Regions from separate parts of the Homo sapiens genome. Here region 2 is linked to region 1. The links come from fine-mapping of genetic effects on gene expression. A gene starts in region 1. The other region holds a variant in brackets. All regions are shown on one strand. Distances are from middle to middle.

Region 1 (2,906 bases):
TAGACATGGTTTACCTCATGGCAAGAAGGCTTTTCTCATAGAGCCACTCACAGATAAAACACCTTTGCCAGACGGCTGCGGTGGTTCACGCTTGTAATCCCAGCACTTTGGGAGGCCAAAGTGGGTGGATCACGAGGTCAAGAGTTCAAGACTAGCCTGACCAAGATGGTGAAACCCCGTCTCTACTAAAAATACAAAAATTAGCCGGATGTGGTGGCAGGCGCCTGTAGTCCCAGCTACTCTGGAGGCTGAGGCAGGAGAATTGCTTGAACCCCGGGGGATGGAGGTTGCAGTGAGCCGAGATCACACCACTCCACTCCAGCCTGAGCTACAGAGTGAGACTCTGTCTCAAAAAACAAAAACAAAAAAAACACCTTTGCAGGAATTGACAACAGAGGCTGGTCTAGGGCATGGGGAAAACTCAAAAAGAGAACGGGAAAGTGTTTCTTCTGGTCCTAAGGACCCCTTCCAAGTGGGAAAATATTTCACTCTAACTAGACAGTGCCTTCCTGCCCTCTGTGAATTTTTGCCAAAAAACAGACCAAGAGCCTCTGTGGGCAGTTCAGGAGAGCCTTTCAGAGTGCAAAGGAAGCTTGGGCAACAAGTCCTCCCAGGGGAAACACCCTGGATCTCAGAAAGGAGAGGGGCCTGAACACCTTCTCCTGATGCTTCCCGCCTCCTCTGATCCCAGCCCACACAGGGCCCCAACCCATGCAGCTTCGGGCACGTACCTTGGCACACTATGGGGATTTAACACATGTTTCATGATGTTCTGGCTGATGGACTGGGAAAGGAAGCACCCGAAGCCGGGGTCCCCAGGAGCTCTCCCTCCCCTCAACAGGAGCTCTGACTCACAACCTGTTTGGCACTGCTGAGTCCTCTCCGGTTTCCTGAATCTCCCTCTCTCTAATGCAAAAAGCCTCCATGGCAGATGTTTTAGAACAATGATCACGTCAATGACGCTGTAACCCACTACTTTCTTTTTGCATCATAGAATTTTTTAAGTGTTTTTGCAGACTTACTCTTTAAGGTTAATTACATGTTTTGGATTGAGCCTTTGGGAAGACTTTACAGTGGTCCTATCGGATAACTGCGGGCCCCAAGGCTGGAGATCTGTTAATAGGGTGGGCAGAAAGGGACTGGGAGCGAGACTGGGTTCAGAATCTCAAGTAATTTGGAGTGTGCCTAGGGATTGGGATGATTTGGCTGGGCATTAATTTGAAGGTGAATATGCGTCTAGAGATTGCGGGGATTTCTTTTTCTTGGAGGGCAACCGTGGGTGTGGAGGAATTTGGTGTGCAGAAACAGAAAGGTCTGGTTCGGGCTTCCTCTGGGAAGGCAAGGCCAAGTGGCCAAGGCTGAGAAGGGGCAGGGGCGACCGTGCTGGGGCGGGTCCGCACCAGCTCCTGGGAGCAGAGAGCAGAGCCGGGCAAAGAGATGGGGTTGTCCAGGCTAGGGTGAGGACGCGGCCGGTGACAGCGCGGGTGGGGATCCCCCGGGGCCGGGGCGGGGCGGCTGCCGCGAGCCGGGCTGGGGGCGGGGCGGGGCGGGGAGGGACGGGGAGGGGCGGGGCGGGGCTCCGAGGCCGTCTCGCAGGCTGCGGCGGCCGCGGGAGAGGCGTACTCGGCGGCGGCGGAGCGGGCGGCAGAGCAGGGCGGCGGCGACTCGGTGAGCGCGGCGCGGCTGGGGGCGCGGCAGGGGCGCGGGCGGGGGTCTGCGGGCGCGGGGCTCGGCCTGCACGGGGCACCGCGGGGCACCGCGAGGCGGGGCGGGCGCCTCCCTGCCATCCTTCTCCTCCCGGACGCCCCTGCAGCCTTTGGGAGGGAGGGAGAGCGGAGGACACCGTCCGGGAGCCCTTCTCTAGCGATCGCCGGACAGAGGTCCGGCTTTGTGCCCCGTTGCCCTCTTTCTGAGAGGGCTGCCTCCTGATTGTGTTCCTTTCCCAGACCACCCTCCCTCGTCCCTCACTCACTTACCCCCCACCCCAGGTATCATAAGCTCCATTCTTGCAGGGGACCCCTAACACTCCCCTTCCCACCACCCGAGGCCCCGGGGTCCTGGGTACTCTCTACAGCCCCAAAGGGAGGGATGGCCCCCTCCCCAGCCCCTGCACACCTGGACCCTTCTGTTGCCACCTGCCACAGACGTTCTTAGCCAGCCAGAAAGCTGCTGTGCCTAGGACCCAGCACACCTTGCCGTCACCCTCTCTCCTCCCCCAGAACCCAGAACCCCAGTTTGGCAAAAGGCACTTTTCCAATACTGAGCTTTGGGAACAATTTGACCCACTTCCCAAAATGCTGGTCCCAGGCCAGCCATGCTTTTTGGTGGAGACACCTGTCTTGTCTGCCAGGAGACATTCTCTGTCAAAATGGGCCAGCCCGTCCCTGGGTCCTCCTCCAAGCTGCTCCTACTCGCTAGCCAGTGTCCCCAGAGACCAGGGCCAAGATCTTTGTCATTTAAGGCCTCCAAAGCTATTTCCCCACGCATCCCCAGAATTCCCCCAGCCACTGTTTTGGGGGTGCCAGGTCCAGAACTGATGGAGCAATCTTTCTGTGTCCAGGGCCTGATGTCCTCTCCCACACCCTTGTTTACCCGCCTGCTCCCCAGGGAACCCAAGACAGGGTCATGGGGCTGGAGTTTAGGGCCCTGATCTCCCCTGAAGCTCTGTGACCCTCCTTTTCTCCCTGTTAGAAACTTTCCTCTCTGTCACCAGTCACTATCTCCTCTGGATGGGACCTGGGCCATCTGCACAGTGTCGAGTCCCCAGGGCACAGAATGCTGATCTGGGACCCTGGAAGGCTGGGACTTGTGCTGGGGCAGCAGGAGGAGAGTGGCTGCTAGCCAGGTCTGGGCTTGGGTACCAGAGTTCTTTGGGTGGATCATTGTCGGCTTTCACTGATCTCTGG
Region 2 (2,906 bases), 31 kb after region 1:
ATGCCACCATGCCCAGCTAATGTTTTGTATTTCTTTCTTATTTTTTTTTTTGGCAAGGGGTTGGGGGAGAGATAGGATCTTACTACGTTGCCCAGGCAGGGGTAATTTCTTTCCCTGAAGTTGTCCTACTTCCAACCTGTGGCCCTAGGTCCCAGATGGATTGTAACCAGCTTGTCCGGAGTTCTGAGTAAGCCTTGCAGAGGGAGTGTAGAGACCTCAACAAAAACATTTTCTCTGAATAGATAGGTGACTCAGCACTGGACACCAAGAAAGCTGCATTTAGCTGAAAGTCAGTAAGAAACTCGGGACCGGGCCTGGGGCAGTTGGCCTCCTATCCTGGACCATGAGCTCCTCATTCACAAAGCAAGGGGCTGGGCAGAGAGTTGCCCAGGTGGCTTCCAGCTCTGGCATTCAGTGCATCTGAGTGAGTTGTCATTTATAGACCAGGAAGGGCGAAATTATCCCCATTAATCTGCTCACAGTTCTGGTGCTTGAGAAGCCACTGGGTCTTGCCACATCTCGAATTAGCTCTGGGCCCTTGGGCTTTTAATTAAAGGGCTTTGTGAGTCGGATGGTTTATGGTCAGATTCAGATCTTCAGGGAGACACAGAGGGAGGTCCTGTGTTCTGTCATCTGCTTGTTTAGAAATCAGCTGCCACTCTCAGTGTGAGAACTCAGAATCCGGAGTCTTGCAAGGGACTTCCAGCAACGGCTGTGGTTACACCTCACCCCCTACTTTCGCTGACTCCAGACCCCAGAGGCTGAGGGACAGTAGATATGCTGCCTGCCATTGCCTCTTTCCTTGTGCATGTCTGAGTGGTGCCAGCCTGATCAGATTCTGTTGCAGTTCCCCGTGCTTGCCACAATGTCGGTCGCGTTTCTTATCCAACGCTGTTTCTGCTTCTGGTGGTTTGTGCTAAATGCATTTTCAATCCCAAGTGGTACAGAGAAGAAAAGGATTGTCTTTAAAAAGTGGCTTTGAATGTGTCGAAAGCAAGGTTGCCTGCTGTGTGTTTTTGACAATTGCCTCCCCAGAGGAGCCTTTGAAAACCTCACTTTTCAAGACGCTTCAACTCCTATTAGAAAGTGACTTAAATAAAATTGCTCTTCTGACCATCGCGGCTCTGGATGCCAGGCTAGTGATTATTTGTCTAATCTGAGTCTCCAGGGCTAGAACTTCACACCGTGTCTTTTCACTACCCTCCCAGAGGAGGTGAGAGGAGGTGAATAGACACTTGTCAGATTCTTCTGCCTGGTGTCACTGTGGGGGGATGCACACACACTGGAGTATAGGCTTGCTAAAGAGAGACTGCATTGCTATTTCAACTAGACACGTTTACTTTTCCCGCAAATGATTACTGAGCACCTATGGTGTGCCCGGTACCATGTTAGGGCAAGAGATCTACCTCATCCTTGCATTGTAAACCTGTAGCATCCGTGGCAATGTTTTACACCACTGCCCTCCCAGGGTTCCTGCAAGCTGACTCCTTTTATTTTCCTTGTGCATGCTGATGTGTTCAAGGTATTTCA[G/A]TGGGCTACTGTGAGACTATCTCCCCATCAGGATCTCTCAACCTTGGCACTAGGAACATGTTGGGAAAAGTAGGTCTCTGTTAAGGGAGGAAGAGGGGCTTTCCTGTGCGTGATAGGATGCTTGGCAGCATCCCTGTCCAGTAGCACCACATCTACCTCAGTTGTGACAACCAAAAATGTCTGCAGACATTGTCAAATGTCTCCTCCCTATTTTACATTTACCAAAGTGCTCTTTATGTCCTTTACAGTTAAGGAAACTTAGGACCAGGAAGAAACTTGCTCAAGTCAAACAGTGAGTTGGCGGTAGAGCTTTAGCTACAATTTAAGTCTTGTCTTCCCAACCCAGTGTCCATCTTATGGATCCATTCAGTGGTTTGCTCCTAAATGCTTAATAACCAATTATCTGGGATAAACGAAAGCCAAACAAACTTGCTGGGAGCGTGGGACAATTTCCATGGTGTAAATACTTCCACCATGGCTGGTTTCAAGCTACTTCCATGGCGTCACTGAATGTGAAGTTGGGAAGGGATCTGTACAGTTGGATCTGGTGAGCTGGTGCCAGCCAGCTCAGAATGCCCCCAAGTCCATGTGTGCTGCTGATCACATATTAGTCTTGCTCTCCTCTGGACCTTGTTCTGCCACCCCCCAGACACATGCCCTTATCACTGTGATGTGCTGTGGGGAAAGCAGTCACCTGGTAAGAGTTTTTGATAACTTCTCTGGATAAACATAAAGCAGTTAGAGTGGAGTTATCCCCCTCTTCTGTTAAATGAAAGTTTCTTTTCACAGTCTTTCCATTGAAGGAATTAGAAAAGTCATGGGATACCTCTGGTCTTAGAGCAGAAATGAAGTTCCCCAGAAGGGGGTCCTGGACAGAATGGTCTCTTGGGCAGGGACTAGATGCTGTTACTTACCATCAGATGTGTCTACTGTAAGATGCTTGGGAGGCATCAAAGTGGTGACAGTGGGGGGCTGTTGGATTTTACCATTCTGGAATATAAGAGAAGGGGTGTGGCTGGTGTTTTAGTCCAGATAGCAGCTGTGACCACTGGGAGCCTCATTTTCCACACCTGCAAAAGGAGAAATAGTGATCCCCTTCCTAGTGTTGGTGTAAAGAGTAGATGAACCTCTGCCTGAGTCTCAGATGCCTGCTGCCCACTTGGTTGCTTAGTGGATCGGCTGGCTGTCAACAGTGTAAGCTTATCAAGCCTAAATACTTAGTTGGTCTTGACTTTTTCACCTCGACCATGACTCAGTGTCATGTGCTCCTAGTCATTCTGTCTGTGGTCCAACGTTAGCCTGGGAAGCACCTGGGACTGAGGGAAGAACCCTCAGCTAGTTATTCAGCGATCCAGGTTCTCCTCCTGCCTTTGATA

What was found. PIP is the estimated chance that this variant, and not a neighbour inherited with it, causes the effect.
Region 2: its variant is fine-mapped to the expression of CYRIA in whole blood (TOPMed, PIP 0.92).

Annotation. Positions count from the first base shown.
Region 1 is chr2:16,664,542-16,667,447 of GRCh38, reverse strand. CYRIA (CYFIP related Rac1 interactor A) reads left to right here and starts at 1,614. Exons shown (of 12, transcript NM_030797.4): 1 at 1,614-1,668. RefSeq lists silencers at 1,408-1,577, 1,648-1,697.
Region 2 is chr2:16,633,941-16,636,846 of GRCh38, reverse strand. All of the region lies in intron 1 of CYRIA (CYFIP related Rac1 interactor A), which reads left to right. Among named protein-coding and RNA genes, the nearest start is that of CYRIA, 30 kb to the left of the region's middle. The variant G/A (reference allele first, on the strand shown) is at 1,531.